Regions from separate parts of the Homo sapiens genome. Here regions 1 and 3 are each linked to region 2. Evidence: fine-mapped expression QTL. A gene starts in region 2. Each other region holds a variant in brackets. All regions are shown on one strand. Distances are between the middles of the regions.

What was found. PIP is the estimated chance that this variant, and not a neighbour inherited with it, causes the effect.
Region 1: its variant is fine-mapped to the expression of CD2 in whole blood (TOPMed, PIP above 0.99).
Region 3: its variant is fine-mapped to the expression of CD2 in whole blood (INTERVAL, PIP above 0.99).

Annotation. Positions count from the first base shown.
Region 1 is chr1:116,807,826-116,818,237 of GRCh38, reverse strand. No RefSeq gene overlaps it. Among named protein-coding and RNA genes, the nearest start is that of CD2, 59 kb to the right of the region's middle. RefSeq lists an enhancer at 297-591. The variant A/G (reference allele first, on the strand shown) is at 5,774.
Region 2 is chr1:116,748,845-116,759,256 of GRCh38, reverse strand. It overlaps CD2 (CD2 molecule), which reads right to left and starts at 4,827. Exons shown (of 5, transcript NM_001767.5): 1 at 4,704-4,827; 2 at 4,306-4,626. The coding sequence starts at 4,764. RefSeq lists promoters at 4,710-5,152, 4,710-7,307, cis regulatory regions at 6,211-6,240, 6,578-7,077 and a silencer at 6,074-6,577.
Region 3 is chr1:117,328,096-117,338,507 of GRCh38, reverse strand. No RefSeq gene overlaps it. Among named protein-coding and RNA genes, the nearest start is that of MAN1A2, 34 kb to the left of the region's middle. The variant G/C (reference allele first, on the strand shown) is at 4,667.

The sequences.
Region 1 (10,412 bases), 59 kb before region 2:
GAATAAATATGAAACAATTGATGTAAAGTACTGAGTGCTATATGTAGCACATAATAAATGCTCAACAAATGTTATATATAAAACTACTAATCACACATATATCACTAAAGAGCTGAATCACTTGGGATTTTGGCATTTTCAATATGGGACATTCCTAGATGACTTGAATACTGAGGTCTTTATTATATCTTGGAGGATTCATCTTCATCTGGGAGATCTGGTCAATTCTTGCAGCTGGCAGTGAAAACAAGAGAGTACTAGGAGAGTTAGAGAAAGGTGTCCAGCTGGGCTCCATCTCTGCAGCCCTGCAGAGCTTTGACGTGGTTGTCTAATCACCACCACCAGGTGTGAAATGGTGGAGTGGGAAGCCTAGGAGACCAGCAGGTGGGGCCATCCCAAGAAAGTGTGGGGAGGTCCCCAGATAGCCATGGAGTGCAGCCCCTCTAGTGTTGAGTGAGTTTCTGCTCTCCCAGCAGGGGGCAGCAAGTGACGAGGACAGCCATTTAACTCAGGGGAATCACAGTCACTTGGGAAGAGAAACCCTAGGTAAACAGCAAATTTCTTATTAATTTGTGATGTAGTGATTCAGAGTGATTTCAATATTAAAGTAAATGTGACTGTATTTTGCAGTCACATGCTGGCAGGGCCAGAGCCTGTGGGTAATAATAAACATATTATTGTCAATCAATGTTAACAAAAGACTTGGGCAAATCACAGCAGAATGAATGCAGATTGCAAAATAAACACATGAAAGTATTTCAGCCTCACCAGTACAAAAAATGTAAATTTAAACAAGGTAGCATTTTTAATCTGCCAAACTATCAAAACATTTTTAAAAATAATAACTTCTGACTAGTTTCGAAAAAATTTTATGCTTTGGATCCTGTTTGTACATCATCTTATTTAGTCCTAATAGTAGTAAGGACCAATCTCATTTTATGACTGAAGAAACAATCTCCAAGAACTTGAATGATATAAAGATGTCAATTTGAGGCCGGGCACGGTGGCTCACGCCTGTAATCCCAGCACTTTGGGAGGCCGAGGCGGATCCGCCTGAGGTTGGGAGTTTGAGACCAGCCTGGCCAGCATGGTGAAACCCCGTCTCTACTAAAGAAAAAAAAAAAAAAAGAAATTAGCCGGGCGTGGTGGCGGGCGCCTGTAATCCCAGCTACTCGGGAAGCTGAGGCGGGAGAATCGCTTGAACCTGGGAGGAGGAGGTTGCAGTGAGCTGAGATCTCGCCATTGCACTCCAGCCTGGGCAACAGGGCGAGACTCCGTCTCAAAAAAAAGATGTCAATTTGAATATACATGTTAACCTCTTCTTTATCCTGAGAAGCTACTGAAATGATAAATAATTATTTGTTGTTGAAGGCTGTCTTGTGTATCGCAGGACGCTTAGCAGCATCACTGGGCTTTACCCACTAGACACCAGTAGCAACCCCAACTCAGTTGTGGTAACCGAAAATTATCTGCAGTATGCCAGATGTTCCCTGGGGGACAAATTCACCATGAGTTGAGAATCACTGGGATATGGGCTATCTGAGAGTGAGAAATTTCAACAGAATTCTTGCAAACTGGTGTTTGAAAGAGTAGGCTGGAAGAAACCACAGCTTGATGTGCCCACAGAGCCACCGTAGGGTGCAGACAGGATGACAGCTGGCTGGCCCGCAGCACCTCAAGGCTCAGAAACTTCCGGCACCAAAAGGCAGAGTCAGAGAATTAAAAATTAGATTAATTAGAATTCTGTTTAGATAATAATTTGATTCCTGGTCCATCTTAAAACATGAGTATGAAGAACTTTGGCAGGAAGATCTTTAGGAAAATGGGAGACTTAAAAGAATACTTGATGTAATGGTGCCAAATGTGAACTATAAGGAGAACAATGCAAGAAGAAAAGCACAATTAAAAATGCCAGCCTAAAGAAAAAGAGACAGAGAAGTCAATGCATAATATTAATATACAACGTGTTGAATAATATTTGTGCAGTTACAACAATTATTATTTTGTTAATTATAACATAACAAATATATTAATGGTAATTATAACAAGATATTATTGTTATATTACTTAATAATTGTAGATTTATTATTGCTTTGCTTAAACACAGCGATATAAGTTTATTGGGAGGATGTGAGAAGAAAAGAGTGAGGAAGTGTGGAGTTGATGTAAATTAGCTAAGTCCTAATCTTTTGCAGCAGTAAATGAATAGATAATGTCTAAAATTTTGAAATTATGAAATAAACATATTATTGTAAATACCTAAAATAATCTAAAAACATTAAGAGTAGTGGCATCTGGGCTGTGAACAGGAGGGCAGAGCACGGTAGGCCAGGGGACTGGTGTCTTTTATTATGTCTTTTGAGAATACTGATTTTTAAAATAATCTATGTTATTTTGATAAAAAATTTATAATATCTAGAGCTGTTGAAACTGTAATGAGAGGAACACTCTCATTTGTTGCTAGTAGAAAAGAGTGTCTTGAAAGAACTTTTCTGAAAAATAGTGTAACAGCTTCTATCAAGAGCCTTAAAATATTCATAGCCTCCAGGAATGCATCCTTAGGAAAAAACTAGAAATGTGGGCCAAAACTTATATAAAAAGCTGAATATCATGTTATTTGTAACAGCAAAAAGTTGGAAACAACTTAAATATCCAGCAGTTGGGGAGTGGCCAAATGAATGGGTAGCTATACACCTTTAAATATGTGTACGAAGAACTTTATGTGGAGACAGGCTTACAAAATGAGAAGTAGAAAAAAAGCAGGGTATACAACTGCTTCAAAGTCCTTAACTGTGTTAAAACACGGATGTGCAGAAATAGAACTAGAAGGGAATGTACTACCATGTTAACACTGGCTATCTCTGGGATTTGGGTAAATTTTATTTTCTTCTCATTTTTTTCTCAGTTTTCTAATTTTTCATCAGTCAGTATGTATTAATTTTATAAGCAGAAAGAACATTAATGTTACTATTTTAAAAGAAAAAGTAATAATCTTGAGTACAAAATATTTTGCCACAAAACAAAACCTGTCGCTGTGTGGCCAAGGCCTGGAGGGTGAGGGGGGAAGGTTGCTGTTACCTTTTTCAGGCCTTCCTGGAACCCATAAAGGTTGATTTCCCACTTTACAGTCAGCTAGAGACTAGGACTGGAACAAAAGACTAATGGAGGGTTTCACTTTGCATAATTAGTTTAGTTCATCAAGGCCTTGGAACATGCATTCATTTTCACCCCCAGTCTAATGGAGGCAGTGACGTTTGTTGTCATTTTCATGTGTCTGAATCTGTGGAGCTGGAATTCTGAGACTCTTTCCTTAAGTTTCAGGTAGCAAAACAACAGATGACTGATGATGCTTTCTTTTATAGTGGTTTTGGCCAATAAGCGAGACTTAACAAGATATGGATAAAAAACTACAAATAAGACATTATTATTTGAGAGTCATTTTTGGGGGTTCTTTTCCTAATAAAATGTACTTTTTCACCAAAATGCCAAATCAAAAGATTCTATCACTTATTAATAGTACAAAATGGAACAGTGGTTCTTAGACTTCAGAGTTGTTAATCATCTGAGAAATGTGTTTAAGATGCAGAGTACTTAGCCCAATCCCCAAAGACTCTGATGCATACAGTCTAGGGTAAGCTCATGTTTTTGCATTTTCAACAAATACCATAAGTTGATTTTGATGCTTGTGTTTCTTGGACCAATCTTTGATAGTTATAGAGTAAGATTTGAAGAAGTCTGTACCCATGGAAGTAAATTAAATACCTTCCAAACTAAAAATGATTTGTTATTAATCACGGCTTAATCGAACTAGTTTTCTTTAATTTATGAATAAATACTTAAACTTTCAGTAAAAGATTGGTAGGTTAAACATGGGGAATTTAAGGAATAGTTATCTTTATCCCATCTGGAACTCCAATAAAATGACAATTTTTGTAAAAGTCATAAATCCACAAGAACAAAGAAAACATGAGAAAAGATGACCCTAGAAAAAGGATGTCAACAAAAGCTTGGAAGTCTTAAAGCGGGTAGACAAATGCTGAATGATATAGCAGCATGGAGGAAACTCCATGTGCAATAGGGGAAGCTATAATGGGAAGCCAATTTGCTCAAGTGAGCCTCATAGAGACTCACAGATTAGAGGCACCAGAAACTTAGGGATAAGAGGTGGAGATAAAAAGAGGAGCATCGATTCACAGTCCGTGTAAGCAGCAAACAGACCCCAGGTCCCTTCCTTCACCCCACTAGGAAACAAAAACTTATGCTTAAGAAATTGACAAAGAGACTCCAAACTCAGAGATAACAGGCCAAGGAAGGGTGAATGTGCCAGTTATCTGTTTATACTGGAGCTGGATCCTGTGAGGATTTTTCCCTTGCTGATTGGTTCAATGTTGGGCTTTGTTAATAGAATGTGTTTGATATAGTACAAAGGTTTGAAAATGGGGACCGAGTGAAAAAGTTTATATTTAAAGGTGACATCCAGTCTCCTTCCTTTCTCAATTCGCAGAACATTCGCTTCCAGAATTATATCTCCCAGGCAGAAGGATTCCTCTATGGAGAAACCAAGAGAAAAGACCTGACACTTTGAGGCTCCCCAGCAAAATGGCCAGGCTCCTACCTTATAGCACTGCAGTGAAGCCCATTGGATAGCAAGCTCCACCTGTGCACACAATCAGCTCTTTAGTTCCTTGTTGATAAATGTAAATGGATAACTAAGAATCACAAGGGATCTGAGGAAAGTGTTCGCCATGAAAGACAATTTTAGTAACAAAATTTTAGTAACAGAGAAGTGGAGCAGGGTGAATACCCTGGGCTTAGTATCATGTGAGACGTCAGAAGATGTTACATCCGTAAGACGAAACCAGAAAAATATAAAATAAACATTCAAAAAATTAAAAAATACTATGGGAAATGTAAAAATATCATGAAATAAAAATTCAGCAGAATATTGGAAAATGTTGAAGAAATCTTCAGAAAGTAACCAAAAAGATCAAGATATGAAAAAAAGCAGAAAAAATGCAAAACTTAGAGAATCAATGCAAGAAGTAAAACATTATACTAGTAGGCATTTTAGAAAAAGTTAACAGATAAAATGGAATAATAAATTTTTCAAGAAAGTAATACAAGAAAATCTTGACCTGAAAGATCTGAGTCTCCCAATTGAAAAGGACTTTCTGAGTTCCCAGAACTATAACACCAAGGCACATCATTGTGAAATTTTATAGTTGGAAAAAGAGAAGATCCTAAAATCAGAAATCCTATAGGCTAACAAGCAGCAAGCTCAGAATCTAGAGTAAAGTGGAGGAATGTCTTCACAATTCTAAGGAGAAATGATTGGCAAACTGGAATCGTATACCCAGCCAAACTGTCAATCAAGTGTAAGGGTAGTAGCATAAACACATTCCTAGATATGCAAGTCTCAAACATTTCACTCCCTTATAACATTTCTAGGAGGCCATTAGAGGATGTGCTCCATCAAATGAAGAAATGGCAGAATATGAGAGCTACAGAACAAGGCATTCAACACAGAAGCAAAGCAGAGATATTCCCAGGATGACACATTTATAGCAGAAGAGTCAGAGAACTCTGAAAGGTGTATCTTAAAAAAAAGAAATGAATATGATAAATTACCTTTTGTGTTTGTGTCACTGAGAGAAATTTTAAAAGTTTGACAGAGTTTAGAGGAAGAGTTGGTGACAGAACAAATAAAAATATAAAAAAATTATCTTCTGGACATTTTAAAAAGTAACTTAAGAAAGGAAATTAATCACGGTAC[A/G]TTTTGTGGCTCAGCTGTGAAGAGTAGGTGGGCAAAATAATGTAAACACTGAATGTTTATTTAACCAAAAATCATGCCAAAAACCACTGTGTGAGAATGGAGGAAGAGAAAAGTTCACATGGGTGTGTTGGGGGACTGGTTGTAAGATAGTTAAATCCTCATTTTTTATAGGAGAAACATGATAAATAATGTCAAAAGTTTAAGTAAAAGCATATGTATCAATATAAATAATATAAATATCAGAAGAAAAGTCTAAAAGTCATGAACATGGTTCTTTCTAGGGAGTAAAATTGAAGGTATGGGGAAGAGATAAACAAGAGGCTATCCTTTTTTATTGTAAGCCTTTGAGTACTTGCTGAATTTTAATACCCTGCACAAGTATTATGTGAATCAACAATTAAATATGAAAGAAAATGTCAATGACTTGAAATTCATCACTATTACGTTTGCTATTTTTGAGGCAGTGTACTGGGGCCCCCAAGACTACCCCCAGGTTTGATGATTTGCTACGAAGACTCAGCATATAGTTGTACTCATGCTATCATTTATTACAGCAAAAGGATGAAAAGTAAAATCAGCAGAGGGAAAAGGAGCAAAGTTCAGAGGAAAGCAGGCATGATCTTCTGAGAGTCTCCCAGTAGAGTCACACAAGGGACATCTAATTCCTCCAGCAGTGACTTGTAACAACACATGTGAAATGTTGTCTACTAGGGATGCTCATTAGAGACCCAGTGTTCAAGATTTTTACTGGAGGCTGGTCATGTAGACAGTCTATGCCTAACAAGTAGGAAAATTCCAGACTCCCAGAAGAAAATCAGATGTTCAGCATAGCAAACAGTTTAGGCACAGTGAGCCACTCTTGTCATTTAAGAAAAGTTTTATATCAGTCTAGGGAACTGTTTACAATTCAAATTCCCAGATGCCAACCAATGGCCAACCTTGCAAAGTAGGTCATTCCAAGGATGGCAGTCACGGGCCTTGCCCAGAGTATTAACATTCAGCAGGTACTCAGAGGCTTTCCACACAGGCATTGAAAGTCTTTGCAAATTTCCTTACAATGTATCAGAAAAGTGCTGAGTGACCTGGAAAGACCCTTGCCTGGACTTGCCATCAGTCATAAGATCTGAGTTCAAATCTCACAGGGGGTCCTTTACTCTTCATGTGACCCTGGCCAAGAAAAGGAGACTCTGAGACTTACTTTTCCTTAGGAGTAATGAAAAGTTTATTTTTATTTATTTATTTATTTATTTATTTACTTTTTCTGAGACGAAGTCTTGCTCTGTTGCCCAGACTGGAGTGCAGTGGCACGATCTCGGCTCACTGCAACCTCTGCCTCCTGGATTCAAACAATTCACCTGCCTCAGCCTCCCAAGTAACTGGGATTACGGGCCCACGCCACCAAGCGTGACTAATTTCTGTATTTTTTTTTTTTAGTAGAGATGGGGTTTCACCATGTTGGCCAGGCTGGTCTCGAACTCCTGACCTGGTGATCCTCCCACCTCAGCCTCCCAAAGTGCTGGGATTACAGGCATGAGCCACCACGCCCGGCAGAGTAGTGAAAAGCTTAAAGCATATTATATACCAAAGTGGGTGCTCAGGAAATGATTTTGTAGAAATCATTTAGTGATTTTTGCCTACTGAGTTTTCTCCCTTTTAGACTTCTGCCTTTACATCTCACTCAGCTTCCTGGGCACTGCTTTTGCATTAAAGTAAATTGTGTTCTACTCCAAGCAGTTTTTAAGCATTTCTTCACGTACTTTATCTTAGCCACATAGAAATTCCTGCTACTCTTCATGTGTGATTATCGGCAAGAGGCCATGCAGCTTCCCTGGCTCTGGGTAAAACCCTTTGATGGGTCCCTTACCAAGAGAAACCACATCAGTGTAATCAGCATTGAGTGGGTTCCCCAGTGGGTGACTCCCAGTGGCTTTACTCCATAGATATGCCTTTGGTTTGCTTTTGTTCACAGTGACACCGTCCAGGGCTGAAGGCTGAAGAATGATTCCCCTAGTTTCACCTTTCCTCACAATGCCTGCATTGCAGCCTCCATGAATAATTCTATACAAAATTAGGGAGGCTGTTTACTCAGTTATCATTGTTCACTCGTAACTCAAGACAAATCCTTGGCCCTGTGGCTTATGGCTCACGCTCCAACTAGTCCTAGAAGGCTGTTTACTATATCATAGAATTGTCCTGAATACAAAATTGTACTGAATAGAATAGAATTGAATTGAATTGTCCTGAATACAGAATTGTACTGAATACAACAGTGTCCTAGCTAAAGCAAATGTCATTTTATCATGCAGTTTTTGAACTCTGCAGATCTACAATTAATTACAATTATTTACACACAGAGAGAGTGCCCCCGCTACCATGATGATATCCTAGAATTCTAGAACCCCAAACACCTCATAACTAAAGTTTATTCCACTGGTTTTAACATTTTTTTCTTAGCAATAAATAAATTTTATCAACTCTAAAATCTTGGACAGATTCCCTAATATTTTACTGGTTTGTTATTTCAAGTGTATGCCATTTATTTATTTTGAAGTCTATCAGTTAAAAATGAGGCTGTTTTGATGAGCACAATAACTTTAAGTCAGAGGTTGTGGATAACAGTTTGAGTCTCATGTTAGCCAGTTGATTTCTGTGTTTGGTTTTGAAGGTATAACATTGAGAAAATCCTAATTATGATGAATAGAAGTTAACAAACACATGTTTTTAAAGGATAGCTTGCTTAAAAATCTAACAATTCTCTTATTAATTACTCTAGAGTCTCAAAAGGGGAATAGTAGAGTGTCTTCTGTTTCAAAGTCGAATCATTAGGAAACTCTAATAACTGCTGTCATTCCTTAATTGGTTAGCATTCTATGTGGAGAGTATGAATAAATTGATTTCTCAGATAATAAATCTCCACTATTTGGAAGAAAATACTTATCAGTTATCCAGTAAGTTTTTATATTAGGATATTTTGATCTATGACATTTTACAAAGTTTCATGTAACTTCTTGTTTCTGATAGAGGCATATTCAGTTTTAAAAACAGTAAATCTAACTTTGGTTTTCATTTCGATTTCACACGTTTCAGTTTTATCTCTGACACTAGCTGCTGTCGTTAGTCTGGTAACATCGTTGCTGTATGTTGCCACAATGATTTTATTGAATTTATTAAACTATTAGTAAAATATGCAAGTTTGCACAATCATAGTGCAGACATATTTAGCTAAAGGGATCTCTCTCTTTTTTTTTTTTTCGGAGACAGGGTCTTGCTCTGTCTCCTGGGTTTGAGTGCAGTGATGTGATCACGGCTCACTGTAGCTTCAACCTGCTGGGCTCAGGTCATCTTCCCACCGCATCCTCCCAAGTAGCTAGTACTGCAGGCACTCGCCACTGCGCCCGGGTAATTTTTTTATTTTTTGTAGAGACGTTGTCTCACTGTACTGCCCAGGCTGGTCTCAAACTCCTGGGCCCAAGCGATCCTCCTGCATTGGTCTCCCAAAGCGCTGAAATTACAGGCCTGAGCCTGCACTTCCAGCCTGAAGGGATGTGTTTATCAGCTTCCCCAAAGTGATTTCTTGTCTCATTTAAGTTATTGGTACGTACATCCTGTCTCAAATTTCGCTTTTGAAAACTAAGATTTGGAACTCAGTCCACAGCATTATAAAGAATTCTGAATAATCCACGGTTTACACCATGATCAGGGCAGACAATTTGTGTGGAATTACCCAATACTTGGAAGATTCTGGCATCTTCTTAGAAGTTCCTGCTTGTCCCTGCTGGGCACAGTGATTCACTGAACATGTTTTAGCATCAGCCGTTTGTATGTGCTGTGACTTGTATAGTTTTTTCTTTTACTTATTGTGCTCTCAGTACACATGGCACTGTTATTTTGCCAGTTTATTTGACGCAGTATTAAAATCGATCTCAACAATTAGAAACATCTTCTCCTGTTATGTAATGCATCTTTCTTGTTTGTACCTGCAAGATCCCGTTACATAAGAACAAGCAAAAAGGTGAGGCCTATGGCACGACTCCAAACTGTGACCATTTGCACTTAGAACTAGAAACAGATTGACAATACTCAAATATCACACTCCAGGATGTCTTTGAGTCTCAGGCTTATAATAATGGAGACATTGTCACTCTTGTAAGCATCTGAAAGGAGTGCTTGGTGGAGAAATTACTAAGAATGTTCTCGGAAATCTTGGGGTCTACTTCCTCCAAGAAGTCAGAAACAGGATGCAGTGGACTTTCAATGAGTCATTAATTTGACATTCATTGGCCCTTTTGTTGGCAGAATTTGGGGAAAAAAATGGGTTTATTTTCGTGGCGCCACTAGGACTAATTCTAGGGATGGCACAAAATGCGGGACAGCTGCTTAGGAGTGCGGGGCGGCGTAATCCTGCGCCCTCTGTTTACCAGTGTGAAAGGAGAAGGTGGTGCGCAACGGTGATGCCAATAGGCCCTCGAGGGATTTGAATTGACCCTCAGTCCTTGTGTCTGAAATCCATCATTCTACATAGACACAGGGACTTGAGCTGAATGAATAATTAGTATGGTTTAGGGAATTCAATGCAACAAGTATTTATTGAGTGCACTGTGAACACACAGTGTTCAGGACCAGGTGCTGGAAGAGGAGG
Region 2 (10,412 bases):
TATATAGGCATGCAGAAATTAAATTAAAAGTTTTCTTCTCATCCCAAGATTCTGCGTTACTGAGAAGGAAGAAAATGGAAATTATCAACATTCAGCAACAGAGTTAGTACATAGTCTAGAGGTTGGGTCACGAAGTTTGCCCGTCTCTTCAGAATGGAAATATTTTTTTTCTACTTATAACAGCAACACAGTAACATGATTGTGGTGATGGTTGCAAAACTCTGAATATACTAAAGGCCGTTTTAGTGTATGGACAAATTGAATGATAGGTGAATTATCTCAATGAAGCTGTTTAGAAAAAAAAGAAAAGGTCATCATCCTTGCCAAAAAGACCTCTGAGTTTGAATCCTGACTTTGCTCCTGTCAAGCAATGAGACCTTGGACAAGCTGCTTCTGACTAGGTCTCTGTTTTCTTATATATAACAAGGAGATAATAACAACTAGGTCTCAGTATTGTTGGGCGCTTTAAATAAGATCATGTAAGCAAGCACTTGACCCCTAACTGGTAGCCATTATTTCCGCCGCAATGCTAAATGTGACCCAAATGTGAAAACACCAACATGGTCCCCCATGTAGGGCTCACACTCAAAACAGGACACTCGAGTTCTGTGCTGTTTGGAGTCCTGAGATCTGTGGTTTCCAGAGCCCATAATCAGAGGCTCTTTTCAGCGCCATGCTCAACCCCACTACATTTCTACAAGGTGCTCTCCACTCAAGGTTGCAGGACTAGGGTGTGGAAAGTTGTCACTTCAGGGGAGCTGACAGTGTCTGGGATTGCTGGAGTGGGCAATCTGACACTATCTGGGATTGCTGGTAGGCCCAGGTGCTGAAGATGGGGCTGGAGACAGAGAGGAAGAAGGTGGGGTCCCTGCTTCTGGCGACATTTTCTGTGTGAAGCACAGAAATGCTTATTTGCTCACTGAATGGCTGGCCTGTGCTCATGCTGGGGTTCCTGTCTTCCTCCCCAAGCCAGCTTCCTCTTTTCCCTTCTTATCACTCCCTGCCCAGCATCCGTGGGCTTTCAACTCCAATCATTGTACAAGCTGATAAAATATTTTTAAAAGTTTAAAGCAGATTAAAAATTACCCACAACGCCACCACTCAAAGTCAATAATGAATAATATTTTCATGTATATCTTTAGCAGATATTTTCTATTTATATGTATATATATAAATAATATAATATTTCAGCTGGGAGAGGTGGCTCATGCCTGTAATCCAGCACTTTGGGAGGCTAAGGTGGGCGGATCTCTTGAGGCCAGGAGTTCAAGAGTAGCCTGGCCAACATGGTGAAATACATCTCTACTAAAAATATGAAGATTAGCCAGGTGTGTTGGCATGCGCCTCTAATCCAAACTACTCAGGAGGCTGAGGCATGAGAATTGCTTGAACCCAAGAGGCAGAGGCTGCAGTGAGCCAATATTTCACCACTGCACTCCAGGCTGGACGACAGAGTGAGACCCTGTCTCTTTCTGTCTGCCTCTCTCTCTCTCTCTCTCTCTCTATATATATATATGTAATATTTTAAAAATTAAAACTAATTTATGTGATCTTACAGTCTGCCTTTTCCCCTTTATTGTGAAATTATATTATGAAGTTCTTTTCTTAATGAACATCAATAAATGCATATATGCATCTTTTTAAAGGATGCATTCTTAATTTAACTGATTAATAAGTTTCTAACTGCTGACTGTTCTAGTATTTCGCTAACATGAATAATGCAGTGATGGGCACCCTTGTGGAGTAGTACCTCCGTATACATTCACTAAGATAGCGTCTTAGAACTGATCCAACCTAAGGCCTTCCATGGATGAGAACTCCTTAATTCTGAGTTGCTGGGATTAACCCCTTCCCTACTAGCATCTGCTTCTAAGGGGCCCTCCATTGCCTCTTCAGCCTGCAGCAGCAACTCCCTCATGAAGGAAATGCAGGCACAACTACTGGAGTTTGAGAAGTTTGGAGGCCGGGTGCGTGGTTCACACCTGTAATCCCAGCACTTTGGGAGGCCGATGCAGGCGGATCCCCTGAGGTCAGGAGTTTGAGACCAGCCTGACCAACATGGCGAAACCCCGTCTCTACTAAAAATACAAAAATTAGCCGGACGTGGTGGTACATGCCTGTAATCCCAGCTACTTGGGAGGCTGAGGCAGGAGAATCGCTTGAACCTGGGAGGCAGAGGCTGCAGTGAGCTGAGATCATGCCAGTGCACTCCAGCCTGGGCAACAGAGCAAGATGCCATCTCAATTAAAAAAAAAAAAAAAAAAAGAGAAGCTTGGAGAAACAAAGAGATGTGGGAGGGCATTAGCACTGAGAAAACAGGCATTGTGCCCCAGGCACTGCAGGACACTTGTACACACCTTGTCTCACTGAATATCCCTTGAAGTTGTCATTGGAAAAGCAGACTCACAGCAGATAGGGAATTTGCCCAAGGCCATGGTCACCTTAAGTCTGGTAATAGTGACCAACTACAAGTTGAATCAAGATGTTGTATGACATTGACGTGCACACACATAAAGCAAGTCACTGTCTTTCGGCTAAAGGGTGAAGGGTTTCTTTTTGGGGCAATGAAAATGTTGATTGTGGTGATGGTTACAAAACTCTGAATATACTGAAGGCCATTTTAGTATATGGACAAATTGAATGGTAGATGAATTATCTCAATGAAGCTGCTTGGAAAAAAAAAGAAAAGGTCGTCATTCTTGCCAAAAAGACCTCTGAGTTTGAATCCTGACTTTGCTCCTGTCAAGCAATGAGACCTTGGACAAGCTGCTTCTGACTAGGTCTCTGTTTTCTTATATATAACAAGGAGATAATAACAACTAGGTCTCAGTATTGTTGGGCGCTTTAAATAAGATCATGTAAGCAAGCACTTGACCCCTAACTGGTAGCCATTATTTCCGCCGCAATGCTAAATGCGACCCAAATGTGAAAACACCAGCATGGTCCCCCGCGTAGGGCTCACACTCAAAACAGGACACTCGAGTTTTGTGCTGTTTGGAGTCCTGAGATCTGTGGTTTCCAGAGCCCATAATCAGAGGCCCTTTTCAGCGCCATGCTCAACCCCACTACATTTCTACAAGGTGCTCTCCACTCAAGGTTGCAGGACTAGGGTGTGGAAAGTTGTCACTTCAGGGGAGCTGACAGTGTCTGGGATTGCTGGAGTGGGCAATCTGACACTATCTGGGATTGCTGGTAGGCCCAGGTGCTGAAGATGGGGCTGGAGACAGAGAGGAAGAAGGTGGGGTCCCTGCTTCTGGTGATATTTTCTGTGTGAAGCACAGAAATGCTTATTTGCTCACTGAATGGCTGGCCTGTGCTCATGCTGGGGTTCCTGTCTGCCTCCCCAAGTCAAGCGCAGCTTCTTCTTTTCCCTTCTTGTCACTACTTCCCCAGCATCCCCCCGGGCTTTCAACTTCAATGGCATTTCGATTCCACTTTCTCTACCTTCTCTCCCTTGCCTAAGCCACCTTTCTCTATGCCTGACCCTTATTATCCTCATTCTTCCTATTTTAGAGGCACCCTTTGGTCTAGGCCAGTGGCGATTGACTTTGGCAGCTCATTAGAATCCCCCAGGGAGCTTTAGAACCTAATGATACCCAGGCCGCATGCAAAAAAAATCTGATTTAATTGGTCCTCACTCCACTTGGATTACAGCAGCAGCTTTCTAACTAGTCTCCCTAACCCCATCCTCAATATCCACTCCTGTCCTCCCAGTACAGGCAGAGATATACAAAGCCACACCTTGTGCATCTTCTACACATATCAGCAAAAATCACCTGCCACCTTGTATCACTCTGACAAGCAGATCCAAAATAAGGGCTGTTCATCCTTAAATATGTTGTTTCCAGCCCTTTTCTGCCATATAACTCCTCCTTCAGGGCAGCCTGGCTTGAAATGGGCTCTGTCGATGAAAGGCCCGCTGCTCTCCAGTCAGCCTCTTCTTCTCGCCCCACTCTTAGCTCGCCGATTCATCAGCAACCTGGAACAGTTGCCTTTTCCCTCGGCCTACCTGTGTCCCCCTCCCGATTAATGCCACCTTAATCCAGGTTCTTCACCCAACCCCACATTCCTGTAACCACCTGAAGACAGAGTTGTAGGCAGGTAGACTTGAGGGTCTATCAGATGTGTGGATCCCATTCCCGCATTGGACCACAGTCTCCACTGGGGCAGGAGACATGCATCTGGTTTCCTGTATAGCCCCCCTGGAGGCAGAGGTCAGCGCTGGGGAATATTAGAAATGCTATTTTCCAACTTGCCAAATAGCACCCACACTGAAATAAAGCAATTAAGGGAATGAACACTTACCTTGAATCTTCAAATCAAATATTTTTTCCAACACATTTTTTCCTTTTGTATCATATATTGATACCTTGTAGATATCCTGATCATCGGTCTTCAGATGCTTAATTTTCAGAGTTCCATTTTTAAATAGCTTATATGTATCTTTTTCCTTGAAAGTCTCTTTCTCTTTTCTGAATTGTGCAATCTTTTTCTTGTCTGAAGTTTTTTCCCATTTTATATCGTCAATATCATCACTCATTTGAAAACTAGGAATGTCCAAGTTGATGTCCTGACCCAAGGCACCCCAGGTTTCCAAGGCATTCGTAATCTCTTTGGAGACTGCACCTATAAAAAGCAAAAGAGTTACTGAGAGTCACTTTCAGGGAAAGCTGGGTTGGGACTTCTTTGACTCTTATGCTTACCTTTGGAAGAAACATTGAAAATCAGAAGGAAGCTGGCTACAAATTTACATGGAAAGCTCATCTTAGGGGTTGGTTTCCTCTTTTGATTCTGAGCTCTTCATGCAAAAGGAACTGAAGTGAGACTGGTGGAGTCCACACCCCGAGAGCTTAACCACGTGCCTCTCTTTACATCTTTTACAGTAACATAAAACATAATACACATACACAGAGAGCAAGAGCGCGCACAAGCCAGCCCTTCTGATGTGCTCCTTTGCCAAAGCAGATGTGTTTATGAGTGTGTGTTTTCTTGCTGCATTTTAATTCTCACACAAAAAAATTGGGAAGGATAGGTTTTCTCATCTCAGTGAAAGAGAAAAGGAACAGAGAGGCTAAGTAGATCACTAAGGATCACTCTTTTGTAAACAAGAAGCCAAATTCAACCACACAGCCTTTTATCCACTTAGGTATACTGTCCCTAACAAGACCACATAGAAATATAGGTAAATGTTCACAAGCCAATAGCAGAATGCAAACATTTATCCCATATGATTATATTGAAAAATGTAGACCCATAAAATGATGAGGAAATTGATTTTTTTGTTTCTCCAAAGATATTTTTCATGTTCTAAAATCGTTTTTGTGGTGAAAAGAAAGAAATTGAATATCAGCTGTAAATGCTTGCAATCCCCAAATCCTATGTTCGGCATACATTTTACAACTCTAGTGAAATTCACAGTTAGATAAATAAAAACTTATTCCAAAACAAAGAAGCATAGAGACTATGAAATATAATTAAACTACCAAAACAAAGGAGTCAAAAGCATTTAAAGTGATTAACATTATAGGTGGTTAAGAAAAAGGAGAGATTAGGAGAAAAAATAAATGAGAGGGAACAGGGAGAGAAAAAAAGAACAGAAATTTGTGACACAAGGAAACAGACAGTGATGCAGAGACGGGTGTGCCCTGAAAAGATGCCTAAAAAGAGAAATAACCATGACAGACTTCCAAAGCACATTTTCAGGGTTATAATTCTTTAGGTCACAGTGAGTAAAAATTGCAAAAGTGGTGCTCGTTTTCTTTTTCAACTTTAAGTACAAATATGGATATTATCTGTCAGAAAGTTGCCAAGGAAATGAAATTAAGTCAAAGCAGTTGTTTGCTGTTACTGGGTAAAAGAAAGCCAAATATTTACCTCATGGTTGTATGAGCGTCATCCACAATAATGAACTACAGTTGGATTAAAGTTTTAAATGCAAAAATACTATAATAATGCTAAAAGGAGGCCGGGGGTGGTGGATCACAGCTATAATCCCAGCACTCTGGGAGGTCGAGGCGGACCTCCTCACCTGAGGTCAGGAGTTCAAGACCAGCCTGGCCAACATGGTGAAACCCATCTCTACTAAAAATACAAAAATTAGCCAGGTGTGGTGATGTGCGCCTGTAATCCCAGCTACTCAGGAGGCTGAGGCAGGCAAATTGCTTGAATCTGGGAAGCGGAGGTTGCAGTGAGCCAGGATTGTGCCACTGCACTCCAGCCTGGGGAGCAGAGTGAGACTCTGTCTCAAAATAAATAACTAAATAAATAAAATAATAACAATAATGCTAAAAGGACAATATAGAAAGATATTCCTATAGTTTGAGTATGGAAGGCCTGGCTACATATAACATATAATCCAAAGTAAGAAAGAAAAGATGAACACAACTGATGATATAAAGAAGTAAGATTTACATGCAGATGAAGAAATAAGGAACAAAATGAAAAGGCGTGACAAAATATTTGCAATATATATAAAATTATTAATATTCAAAATATTCTTACCAATAATTCTTACCAATCAATACAAAGTAGTTTTTAAAATGGGCAAATGATATAAATGATCAGCTTGCAGAAGAAATATTTCGCAGAAGAAATATCAAACCTACAAGAGGAGTCTAATGTGACCAAAAATATATGTATATATCTTAGCTATAAAATACCATTTTTCACCATCAGATTGGTAAAATTAGAAAAGATGATAATTTACATTATTAACATGAGTGTGTGGAGAAATGAACCCTCATACAACATCAGAGGGAATGTAAATCAATACCTTCTGGGGAAAGGAATTTATCATTTCCACCAAACTTTAAAATTTATGTCTTTTTCTCACCTAGTGATTTTAATTTGAGAAATCTATCCCACAGAAATGATTGCACAGATGTTTTAAAATTCTGTTCAAGGACGTTTGTTGTAGCATTTTTGTAATAAAAAATTGCAAACAACTAAAATTATGGTATATCCATATTATGAAATATTGTATAACCATCAAAATAGTATAACATAGGCCTAAAAGTAAGACATGGAAAGATGCTTTTGGTAAATCACATGAAAAGAGCACATTGCAAAACAATATCTATAGGATTAGTCCTTTTTATATATGATACTATGTTTATACTATGCTATGGGTATACCAGTATACCATAGCATACTATGTTGTTATTAAGGTATGTGTTGGAAAAAAGCCTGAAAGGGTTGATGCTGAATTTTTTTACAGTGCTTGTCTTTCAGGTATTAGATTGTGAGAGAACTGAAATGAAATTTTCACTTCTTACCTTTGTAAACCAAAAAGAATTTGAGACAGATCTCAATCAATTTAGAAGTTTATTTCATCAACATTAGGGACAAAAAGGAACACAGAACCACAGGAAAAATCTGTGGTTTGTGCCTTTTTCTCAAGATTATTTCAAAACCTTCAGTTAAGGGGAAAAGCTGGCCAGAGGGGAAGGAGGGAGGGTACAGTCACATTACTGAATCCATATGTTGCAAGAGAAAAAAAGTAGGTAGGGGAATGGTCAATTTGTATTCTTCTCATGCTCAGTAAATTGGCACTTTCTTAAGATAAGGTGAACATAGAGTAGCTACCCGTGGAGACAGCAGCTTTTTATCTGTAACTCTCTGCTTAGGAACTCAAGGAAAGGCAGTTTCTTGTGTGACTCAACTTTCAGCTTAATTTTTCCTTTTGGCATAATGAATTGGGGTCCCAGGATTTTATGTTTCTTTCACATTTTATTTATTTCTGTGAAGTTTAAAATTTTGGAAATAAGCACCTTTTTTGTTAATAAAAAATGTCTTTTTAAGAAAGGATGCTTAGGGCACACGTATTTTTTCAAAAGTATCGCCAACCCAGAGGAGCAGCATGGAGCTTCCTGTTTGTGAGTGGCTGACCCACCAGCTGCCATCCAACTCCAGTGTGTCAAGGCCTGGTGGAGAGAAGGTGGCGCCAGCCATCCTCTGACCCATCTCAGCTTTGGAGGGCGCTTGTCCTCTCTTCCTCACACTTTCCTCATGGAGCATGTGAAGAGCAGCTTTCTGTTCCTCTATTTGAAACATTAATTTTGCTCCTCTAAAACTAATTCAATTCTGAGTGATGAGCATGGCTTCAAGGGCAGAAACAATGAAAAAGAAAGAGGTCAGTAGATTTGACTCTGTAAAATGTGAAAACTTTCTATGTAAAAAGCCATAAAAAAATTAAAGACAACGTACTAAAAGGAGCAAATTACTTGCAAGATACATGACAAAGGCATAACAATTTTTTTTTAATTTTAGAGACAGGGTCTTGCTCTGTTGCTCAAGATGGAGTGCAGTGGTATGACCACAGCACCACAGCATACTGCAGCCTTGACCTCCTGAGCTCAAGTGATCCTCCTGCTTCAGCCTCCTGAGTAGCTGGGACTACAGACATGTGGCACCATGCCTGGCTAATTTTTTTATTTTTTGTAGAGACGGGGGGTCTCACTATGTTGCCCAGGCTCATCTTGAACTCCTGGGCTCAAGTGATCCTCCCACCTTGGCCTCCCAAAGTGTTGGGATGACAGGTGTGGGCCACCGTGCCTGGCCAACATTAAATTTTTAGTATTAAATTTTTCTTGTAAACATAGAAAAGATAGACACCTTAAAACTAAAATGGGTCAAAGTCATAAAAGGAGCAATCCACAAAAGAAAAATTTTATTTCTATTTATTAATAAAGAAATGTCAGTTTTAACATAGATGCATTTTTCATCTTCATTTGAAAAATGAAAACATAGTGTTGATGATGGTGTAAATGGGCATTCTTGTATATGGCCAGGAGAATTGCAAGTAGGTATAGTTTCTGGTGGGCAATTTGTCAGTGTGAATTAGAGTATCAAACATTTGTGGATTTCTAACAAATCCACAAGGATGATTTTATCATAAGGAAATAATGAAGGCTATGTACTAGACTTGGCTATAAATTTATATGCTGCAGTATTTTAAAGACAAAATTGGAAACAATTTAAATGTCTAAGAGAAGGAAATTGGTTAAGTAAATCATGATATAGACAAGCTGTGGAATATGACAAAAACAGGTCCCAATTGTAGGAGAGGTGAAAAGTAATCTTTTTCCTCTTCTTGTCTTAGGTTCTCTGGCTGGAGCCCTGTAAACCAGACTGGGAAAAGACAGGTTAAGAAGGGAAAGGCACATTGAAGTTGATTAAGATGTGTATCCCTCATAAACATGGGAGCACCCAGTGGTGAGTAACCCAAAGGGATGTTAGAACTTGGACTTATAGAGTATATTAGACTAAACAAAGAAAAAGCGATTTGGGGCTTCTAGGTTGGGGAGGCAAGTTACCCAATGACCAGGAAAAGTGTGCCAAACAACAAGATGTGTTTAGTAAGGTTTGTTATGCAGATTGAAGCCAATGCCTTCTCCATTGATAAGAGTTGTTAAGAGTCCTCCTCTTCCTGATACAGGAGAGGGAGATACCTTTTACAAACGGCTATTTTCTTCAGAAATTGTAAATTTTCTTTACAAAAGAAAAATATTGTGCCATGTTTTTAAAGCTTTTACTGCCTCTGCTGGTTCATGATGGCCTTTTGCTCAAAAAAAAACCATATGTTAAAAAGGCATGTTTTAGGGTGGCACTGAAGTAGGAGGTGGAACTTGACTCTGGAGGTGGGGCTTGGACACTGGACCAAATTGAGGACTAGCTAAAACAGAGATAGGTGGAAGCAGCTTTCCATAAAACATGCTCACCAGTGTGCCATGTCAGTTTACTGTTGCCATGGCAATAACCAACTTCTACCACCTTTTTCCATGGCAATGACCTGGCGACCCAGAAGTTACCACCCTTTTCCTAGAAATTTCTGCATAATCTGCCCTTTAATTTGCATATAATTAAAATGGGTATAAATAGGACTGCAGAACTGCCTTTAAGCTGATACTCTGGGCACACTGCCTGTGGTGTATACTTGCTCTGCAAGGAGCAGTACCTCTGCTGCTGCTTCAATAAAAGTTGCTGTCAAACACCACCAGCTCGCCCTTGATTCTTTCCTGAGTGAAGCCAAGAATACTCCAGGCTAAGCCCCAATGGGGCTTACCTGTCCTACATCAGCATCTTCTGGTACCCTTCACAGTCAACAATATAGTCCCATTTTATTTCTCAAAAAGCGTGTGTTGGGTGCATCTCTTGCAGAATGTCCCCAGGGTGTTGGTCCCTGTGTGGTGGGATAATAGCTACTATTCTGCCCTCCTTGCTTGCTGTTGCTATTCTAATATATCTAAATTGAACACGTATTGTCCTTCAATTGAATTATGTTTAATTCTAAGTGGACCTGTCACTTCGGTAAATGTTCTGAGTGCTGAGGCAGGTGCAGTCCCTGCCTCTGAGTGTTTGCATTTCAGGGGACCATCTACTCGGTTGCTCATTCCAGCTCCTCCCTTGCCACT
Region 3 (10,412 bases), 580 kb before region 2:
TTAGTTCAGGTGATCTCATTTACCCAAGCAATACAATCTTTGCAAACTTTTCCCCTAGAGGGAAAAGGATCATGCAGCTCTGTTTTATGTTGTTTCCCTGAAGACCACTTAGTCTCATTGACAGAAAGGGAACATTTGTTTTTAGGGAATTATATTCCCCTTAATCTCTTTTTTCACCTAGCAGTGGAATGCTCTAATACTTCTAAGTTTACTCTTGGGGACCCAGTAGATGCCTTTGGGTCCTTCACAAGCCTATCTCCTGTAGGCTTTGGGCTGTAGGGGTGGGTGAAGAGAATGTCCAGATCTCTGTGATACCAACATGCTGCCCATAGTGTGGAGGAAGTACTTGTAATAAACTGGAGTAGGTTCTTATTCATGCAGCTCCTCCTTGTGTGTCCGGAATTTATTCCTTCCGGTGGGGTTTTGGTCTCGCTGACTTCAAGAATGAAGCTGCGGACCCTTGTGGTGAGTGTTACAGCTCTTAAAGATGGTGTGTCCGGAGTTTGTTCCTTCAGATGTTCAGATGTGTCCAGAGTTTCTTCCTTCTGGTGGGTTTGTGGTCTTGCTGACTTCAGGAATGAAGCCGCAAACCCTTGCGGTGAGTGTTACAGCTCATAAAGGTAGTGTAGACCCAAAGAGTGAGCAGCAGCAATATTTATTGTGAAGAGTGAAAGAACAAAGCTTCCACAGCGTGGAAGGGGACCTGAGCAGGTTGCTGCTGCTGGCCGGGGTGGCCAGCTTTTATTCCCTTATTTGGCCCTGCCCACATCCTGCTGATTGGTCCATTTTACAGAGCACTGATTGGTCCATTTACAATCCTTTAGCTAGACACAGAGCACTGATTGGTGCATTTACAATCCTCTAGCTAGACAGAAAAATTCTCCAAGTCCCCACTTGACCCAGGAAGTCCAGCTGGCTTCACCTCTCACTTGGTCCTATCTTTCCATTTCAAGCACACAGCCACTGACATCCACATCCACTTCTTCCCTTCCTTCTGGAAATTCAAGCCTTTGGAACCCTACCCACAGCTCCAAAGTGCATAAGGATGCTGCTTGTGATGGCTCATGCCTGTAATCCTAGCACCTTGGGAGGTTGAGGCAGGAGGATTGCTTAAGGCCGGGAGTTTGAGACCAGCCTGAGCAACAAAATAAGTTAAAAAAAAATTAGTGGCCAGGCACAGTGGCTCATGTCTGTAATTCCAGCACTTTGGGAGGCCGAGGTGGGTGAGGCAGGTGGATCACGAGGTCAGGAGATGGAGACCATTCTGGCTAACACGGTGAAACACCAACTCTACTAAAAAAATACAAAAAAAATTACTGGGGCGTGGTGGTGGGCACCTGTACTCCCAGCTACTCGGGAGGCTGAGACAAGAGAATGGCGTGAACCCGGGAGGCGGAGCTTGCCGTGAGCCGAGATCATGCCACTGCACTCCAGCCTGGGTGACAGAATGAGACTCTGTCTCAAAAAAAAAAACAAAACAAACAAAACAAAACAAAACAAAAAATTAGCTGGGCATGGTGGCACACACCTGTAGTCCCAGCTAATTGGGAGGCTGAGGCAGGAGGATTGCTTAAGCCCAGGAGATTGAGGCTGCAGTGAGCTGTGATTGTGCTGCTGCATTCCAGGCTGGGCAACAGAGCAAGACCCTGTCCTCCCACAAAAAATGCAGGTTGGGGTAACCTTTATGCTAAAACCACAAACCCTAATCCATCAGATTCTTGCAAAGGGAGGTAGGTCAGGTATGGGTCATGGGGAGACTGAGAAGAAATCATTGCTTGGGATCCACTCTCCTGCACTGCTTGAACACCAAATCTCTCCATGTTCTTTTTCAACTCTACTCTGATATCCTTAAATCTCTGCATGCCTAAGGACTGCTATTGTGATACGACCAGTTCATATCCTGGCCCACATTGCCATGTCTGACTCACTGTAATGCTAGTTTATATTGGGAATAGTAAAGATGGGTTTTCATCCTGATCATTTTCTGTTTGCATACAGCCTTGTTCTCTGCACCATCCATGAAAGCACAGTTTTGTTTAGCTGTTTTATGGGCACCCTCTTTCGCATTTTTTTTCTTGGCTAACTGACCCTTGAAGCTGGCAGAAGGCCACTTAACCAGACTTCTCAGAAGCCCTAGGGTGAAGTAAGGCCTTTGCCTTTCTAGCAGTTAAGTGACTGTCCCAATTGGTCTGGGTGACTCCCCCCTGATTTGGACTGGCATTTCATGCTGCTTGTCTCTAGTCTTGGCAGCTGGAGGGAATTAGGAGCCTGTCCTGGGACTGGCAGCTGGGGCTTTGATTGAAGTGTTCTGTTCCAGGCAGCCTCAATGATTGCTTGTTCACAGAGACTCTAATCCATGCTTTCTTCTTGACCATCTTCCACCATAGGATTTCCAGTTTTAAAAAGTAAGCTTTTAAAAAATTTGTTCACTGATAATTTAGCAATTTTACATGTGTAGCTCTACAGTTTATAGGACTTCCACATACCTCCTGAAGAGTTCTTGAACATTTTACCACTCTTATTGAAGTACAATATCCCTTAGGATATATATGACCTCAAATGTCAAGCCTCTAAAGTTCTCCATCAACCCCCTTCAATTTCCTAAATGAGATAAAGCTCGTAAAGTGCTCCACACAATGCCTGCAACCTAGTAAGCAACCAGTAAATGTAAGCTATTGTTAGGATTGTGTTTGGGGCTATTACTACTTCACTTCTGGTACATGCAGTTTTCGCAGTGTCACAGGTTTTCCCTAGCCAGAGTTTAAATGTCTCTCCTCCCAGGGCTGCTGTGGTGATACTCTTGAGAAACACACCTGGCTTTTGCCCCTCACCTCCATGGTTTCCACCATGTCTGTTCCAGAACTTGAGCTCATATGCATATGACACATGGCCTGCTTAGGTTTAAATCCACTGGGTGAACTATTACTTAAGGATTTGCGTCATGTCTGACATTCCTTGTCTATCTTGATCTAGGAATAGCTTCAGTCTGTACAGAAATTCAGTATTCAGGCTGGGCATGGTGGCTCATGCCTGCAATCCCAGCATTTGGGAGGCTGAGGCGGGTGGATCACCTGAGGTCAGGAGTTCAAGACCAGCCTGGCCAACATGGCCAAACCCCCATCTCTATTAAAAACACAAAAATTAGTCAGGCATGGTGGCATGCTCCTGTAGTCCCAGCTACTCAGGAGGCTGAGGCAGGAGAATCGTTTGAACCTGGGAGGCAGAGGTTGCAGTGAGCCAAGATCGTGCCATTGCGCTCCAGCCAGGGTGACAGAGCAAGACTCCATCTCAGAAGAAAAAAAAAAAAAAGACAGGGCTGAAAGATTAGTTTCCAGATACTTTCCCAACATCCCTCCAGGGGTGCAAAGTATTAAGCTCTAGTAAGGCTACATTTGCTTCCTCCCCCTTCCTAAAAAACTTGCCAAGCATTTTATCCCTTTCCAGGGTCTTTCAAGGAACCTGTCAGGTATTTTTCATTTCAGGCTCTTCACTATTCACTGGCAGTCACAAACAAGCTCAGATTCCACACCCATTTCCATGCATTAGGCTTCCTGCAGTATCAACATTTCCAAATACTAGTTGACCATAATTCTTAGAGGGAATAATTTGTCCTTGCAACAGAGGTGTACAGCATTAGGATTCAGGAAAATCCTGGATGAACCCTAAAATGTAACAATATTCAGACTTCTCTTGCCTGGGAGGCCTCATAGGCATTTATACCGAAATTGCAACATCTCTGAGCGCAGTCTTCCTGCCCTCACCCTGTCCCCTTGCTGATTTGCCCTAAGTCCAAACTTTTCTGGGTTCCACTGTTTAACTGTTTCCATGAAGTAATGTGAGTGTTTGTGCACATCCACTCCAGCTCGCTAATGAGGCTGGCACTGAGAAACTGCCCAGCTTGATAAGGTGTGCTTGGGAATTTCTCTCCCTTGTCTTCTTATTCAAGTTTTTAGGTGTGAAGATCCACCTGGTTTCCACTGTCTTCTCCATGTCTCATGTCTCATTCTCAGGGTTCTGTGACAGCTCATTAATCTTTTTTTTTTTTTTTTTTTCGGAGACTGAGTCTTGCTCTATTGCCCAGTGGTGCAATCTTGGCTCACTGCAACATCTGCCTCCTGGGTTCAAGTGATTCTCATGCCTCATCCTCCCGGGTAGCTGGGATTATAGGCACCCACCACCACACCTGGCTAATTTTTGTATTTTTAGTAGAAACAGGGTTTCACCTTATTGGCCAGGCTGGTCTCAAACTCCTGACCACAACTGATCTGCCCACTTTGGCCTCCCAAAGTGCTGGGATTACAGGCATGAGCCACTGCAGCAGGCTTAATCTTTTTTGAAATGCAAAGATTACCAGAGTCATATTCCTTTAAGGATGTCCCACACCAGAGCCACCTGGGCCTCAAAGTGTTAGAGCTCTTTGATTATGCTCCCCTCTTTCAACTATCCCTCTTTCTCACTCTGACACACACCCCACGAACACTGAGATTCTATCACAGGCAAAGGTGACTAGACTGGGTTGGGTCAATGACAAACACTGAGATTCCCTTACAAAGCAAAGATGACTAGGCTGGGGTTGGTCAATGGACTTCCTAAACTCCGGTCTTCCTATTGCAAAGCTTCAGCATAATGCAGAAAGTCTCATTAGAAAATAATTTAAATACTAGTG[G/C]AACTATGGAGAATAGAAGCACAGCTATACAAAATAAAATATCTATTGCTCATCCCAAATAAGCTCACGTTTGTTATGCCTAAGCAAGAGCTTAAGAGAGGATATGCACTTGGCAAATATAAATGTAACACAAATACACGGCAAGTCCCCTGTAGCCCTCTAACCCAGTCCCCAATGTTTACTATACTGAGATGTTCCATAATTTTGCTGAGAAAAGTCACATAAACTCAGTTATAGTTTCCTGTCAGGTAAGTATCCTTCAAAAATAGTAAAGCACCACTTCACACAGAAAACCTAGTTTTCCGCCAAGAATCAAATAGATTTCACCTGCCCTTTCATTCTTGCTTTTCTTCCCTCTCCTATGACCGAAACCCAGCTTCAAGAAGGAATGACAGGGAGCTCTGGGGATCTGGTCACTCAGATTCATCACATCAGCCCTGACTATCAAACAGTCCAAATGCTTTACTTCCACATTCATTCTTTCAATTTTTGAAGCCTCAAGCAGTGAATCACATTATTTTCTTCCATCAAGTCCCCAGGTAGTAATTTGTGAATTCTGTTGTAATTTGAGACTTGCAGGAAACATACAGTCCAGGATAGATACTGATCCCCAATTCTGTTTCTGATTGGCTGGTGACTATCACTTTGTCATGTGAGACATGGCCAGGCCATACAGTGCTGCATTACTAGCAGGGATTTGGCTTCAAATAGCCCAGCAGTCCTTTGGTGAGATCTACCTAAGGTCTAGAAACCAAAGAAAATATTTCTCCTTTCCTTGAAGGTAAGAAAGGATAGAAGAAAAAAAAGTGAAAGAAAATATTTCTCCTCATTTTCTTTTTGCCTTTGCCTATTTTTTTTTTTTTTTTTTTTTTTTGAGATGGCGTTTCGCTCTTGCTTTCTAGGCTGGAGTGCAATGGCACGATCCTGGCTCACTGCAACCTCCGCCTCCTGGGTTCTAGAGATTCTCCTGCCTCAGCCTCCCGAGTAGCTGGGATTACAGTCGTGCGCCACCACGCCCGGCTAATTTTTTGTATTTTTAGTAGAGACAGGGTTTCTCCATGTTGGTCAGGCTGGTCTCGAACTCCCAACCTCAGGTTATCGGCCAGCCTCGGCCTCCCAAAGTGCTGGGATTACAGGCATGAGCCACCACGCCCAGCTAACCTTTGCCTATTTTTTTTTTAAAGAGACTAAAGTTTGCTATACAAAATTCAAATTTTTATATAATCAAATTTACTAATCTTATCTTTCGTAACTTCTGGGCTTGGGGTTATATACATACATATATATATTTATATACATACATATATATATTTTTATATATATATATATATATATATTTTTTTTTTTTTTTGAGACAGAGTCTCACTCAGCCGCCCAGGCTGGAGTGTAGCAGCACAATCTTGGCTCACTGCAACAACTGTCTCCCGGGTTCAAGTGATTCTCCCGTCTCAGCCTTCCGAGTATATGGGATTACAGGCACCTGCCATCATGTGCAGCTAATTTTTGTATTTCAGTAGAGACTGGGTTTCACCATGTTGGCCAGGCTGGTCTTGAACTTCAGACCTCAGGTGATCTGCCTGCCTTGACCTCCCAAAGTGCTAGGACTACAGCGTGAGCCACCATGCCCAGCCAGGGTTAAATTTTGTAAAGTCTTGCCCATTCTATAATTATAAAAATATGCATCCATGTGTTCTTCTAGGATGTCTGTGATTTCATGTTTTACATGTAAATCTTTGATCCATCTGGAATTTATTTTGGTATAAGAGATGATATAAGGATCCAGTTTTACTTGTCTTTTTTTTTTTTAACCCCAAAATGGCAAATCAGTAAATCCCATCACCATTTATTGAATTAATCTACCTTTTATAGAAGTCCTTTAAATAGAATCTTCTCCATGTACATTTAAAATGACTCAATTGATATAAGTTCTATGTATGGCTTATAAAATTCCTGTTCAAAACATAATACCAGGAAATAGCCATGATTGTGGACAGTTATTTAACCCCTCTGGATCTGTTTCTCTACCTGTAGAAATGGAGACAGCAATATCTACCTTGCATTGTTTTTATGAAGATTTTAAAAAAATAAAATATGTGGATGCATCTACCTCAAAAAAAATGTGAGTTTCTCTTTCTTTTCAACTTTCTGTAATAAAGCAACATGGGCCCTCAGTTAGAATTGAAGATCAAACTTGGCAATAAGACTTGGTTTCTATATTTATTTCCTGAGCATATGGAGAGAGCAAAGGGGGTCATGGCTTTTTCAGTAGTGACACATAATTGTTTTCCTCTCAGTTCAGCATCTAGAGGAGTATCCTATTTAATCCTCTTGAAGCACCAAACTTATTCCCAGTTCCACAAATATTTCAACAAGCTATGGTGCTAGGGACAAGTGATATCACATAGATCTGAGTTTGAATTCCAGTTATGCTACTTACCAAATATGTTACTCAACTCCTGAGTAATTTACAATAGCCCCTATGTCACAGGGTTCTTGAAAGGGTTAATTAAGACTCCTCGTAAAACATAAGCGTCATAAGGACAAGAACTTTGTCTGGTTCATCACAGTGTCCTAAGTGCTAGAACAGTGCCTGGTATACATTGCGGCTCATTAAATCAATATGGAAGGGAAGGGAAGAGGAGGAGAGGGGTAAGAGCACTTAGCTAGGTGCCAAAGTGAGTGTACTAAAACTGCTAGCTGCAGGCAGTGGTCAGAGGTAACAAAGATGCAGTCCTGGCTTCAGGGGCTAAAATCTGGATCTGAAAACCAAGGTTATAGCACTTCCATACTAAGCATAATGAAACACATAATACAATACAGCACAAACATAGTGCTTTGAAAACAGGTGGTAAGTAATAATTCCAGCTGGAGGATTAGGGAAACACTTTATGGAAGAGGGCTGTGTTTAAGCTGGACCTTAAAAGATAATACAATTTTTGATAGAGGGGAAAGGGGCAGCTTTCCATGCAAGGCAAAAAAGTACAAAATTGGGAAAATATTTGGCATGTTCCAGGACCGGAGCTTAATACAAGTGATGAAAGTGCAAGTCAGGCAGAAGAAAGAACATCTAGAAGGTCAACCCCAGTGACCTTGAATGTTCAGCTATGGTGTTTAAGACAACACACAGACTTGAAGGTTTTTGAGTTGCAGAATCACAGGCACAGGCCCATATGACTATATTATATTTATTTACTTATTATTTCTATTTATTATTCAGAAATCAGTGTGAAAGGTAGATTAGATGGGATCTGGTCACTCAGATTCTTCAAATCAGCCCTGACTGTCAAACAGGCCAAATGCTTTATTTTCTCATGGATTCTTTCAATTTTTGAAAGATTTTCAATATTACATTGGAAACAAATATAATATAATCATAATAGCTCATGAGAAAAGTCCAAACTCAGGAGTTGCAGAGAATAGGGAAAGAAGGAAGAGATTTAACAGTGAGAGGGGAGGACAGGGTCAGAGTAGTTGAAAGATCACTGGGCAGTTAGGCTGCTGATGATGTTGTTTTCTGAGGTCAGGAATTCATGAAGACAAATGGGATCAGTTTAGTTTGGGAAATGTTGACCTTAAGGATGTCTTTTGAACACTCAGTTGGAAATAGGCTATTGATGCCCAAGATGTTAGAGCAGGAGAAATGGAGATGTGTCAGCATTGCTCCATCATTAACAAGATCAATGTTGCTTTTCTAAGATGTTTACAGTCAACCTAATATGTGCATATCAGAATGGAAGCATCTCAGATCAATGAAGATAGGTGAATTGTTTAATAAACAGTGTTGGGAAAATTGGCTGGCTATTTGGTCAAAAAAATGTGGCACCCATCTCATACTGCACATAAAAATAAATCCCAGATGAATTAAATGTGGAATTGAAAACACAACAAAGAAAAGTATTTAGGTAAGGAATATACACACAGATAGACACACACAGACACACACGTATTGACAAAGATATACATAAACACATTTACATCTGAATTTATTTCCATATTTACATATATTTACTGAAATCCATGAGTTCACACTGGTATCTCCAATATCAATTCAACACCACAGTGTTCATTCTAGTTTTCTCCCTTTCCTTATTTCTAACTCTCTTCTACAACGAGAACCTTAGTTCCCATTATTTTTAATTTTTTTATTAGATCAAATCCCCTGTATATAGCCAATATCTTATCATCATTGCTGCCCCTGTCCCTGAGTAGAGCCCCCATCCCATCTGGGCTCTGACATCCCACACCAGGCCACCCATCTGAATGGATGTCTACCTTTCTCTGCTCCATACAATGGATTTAGGATGGAATTGCTCAGAAAGGAGAAGGGAAGAGAAAGAAGAAGGGAAGGGAAAGGAAAAGGAAGGGAAGGGAAAGGGAAGACACTTCCATTTTTTGTTTATTGATTTATTTGTTACAGAAAATAAATACCCCAAATTGCCAAAATCTACCATTTTATTTATATATATATATATATTTGATTCCATTTCATTCAAGTACCATAAAAAGTGTACTTTTTATGTTTAATCCATTCTGGGAAAAATGAAGAGGTATTTCCCAGAGCATCACTTCCACCCAGGAATTTATAATCTCATTGAAGAAGTTAAACAATGCATATTAATAACACAAACCAAAAATAAGCAGTTCAATAGAATAGTGGCATGAGCTAGCACTAGTTCCCTGGTTCTCATAGAACCAGGTAGATGAATACACATTTTCTGCAAGCCTGACTTATCTGGGGTTTGGCTCTGACAGAATAATCCTAGCCTGCTAGGGAAGGTTGAAGACTCACCCTTAATAAAATGCAAGCGGCCTAGAGCAAGGGTTCTTTCCAAATTATTGTAACCACTTCTTCTTGCCAATGGTTTTTTTGTTTGTTTGTTTTTGACATGGTCTTGCTCTGTTGCCCAGGTTGAAGTGCAGTGGCATGATCCCGGCTCACTGCAGCCTTGACTTCCTTGACCTCCTAGACTCAAGAAATCCTCCCACCTCAGCCTCCCAAGCAGCTGGGACCACAGCCAGGCACAACTATGCCCAGCTAATTTTTAAATGTTTGGAAAGACGGAGGTCTCACTTTGTTGCTCAGGCTGGTCTTGAACTCCTGAGCTCAAGCGATCCTCCTGCCTCAGCCTCCCAAAGTGTTGAAATTGTAGGCATGAGCCATTGCACCCAGCCCTTCCTTCCAATTGAATAAAAATTGCTACCATCCCATATAACACAGAGCAGAAAACCATCTGCAAATCTTAACGGATCATTGTCCCATTCCCAAGCAGGGCGGGGTCTGTGATTCCAAGCCCTCCACTGCTCACACGCCAAATGAGAACATGGGAAAATGAACATGGGAACTGACAGTCTCCCCGCGAACGTGGGAACTGACAGTCTCCCCGTTCACTTTGTTACATAAGTGATACAAACTCTTTTTAGAAATTATACACAGGCAAAAGAGCAAACATCACACATAGTCTTACAACTTTTAGAGTAAATGCTTCCAGAATTTTTTTCTATGCATTTGTAAGGTAAGTTTTATAAATAATTGCTATGCATCAGTTTCCTCATCTGTAAAATGAAGATGATAATAATATCTGCCTCATTTGAGAGACTGAGGACAAAACATGAGTTTAAAAAAAGAGCGCTTCATATAGCACCTAGTGCATCTATAAAGGTAACACAATCTATATCTTTCTAGCACTTATCTGTCTAGATTCAGCTACATTTTTTTTTATAAAATAGATGGAAGTATTCATATTTC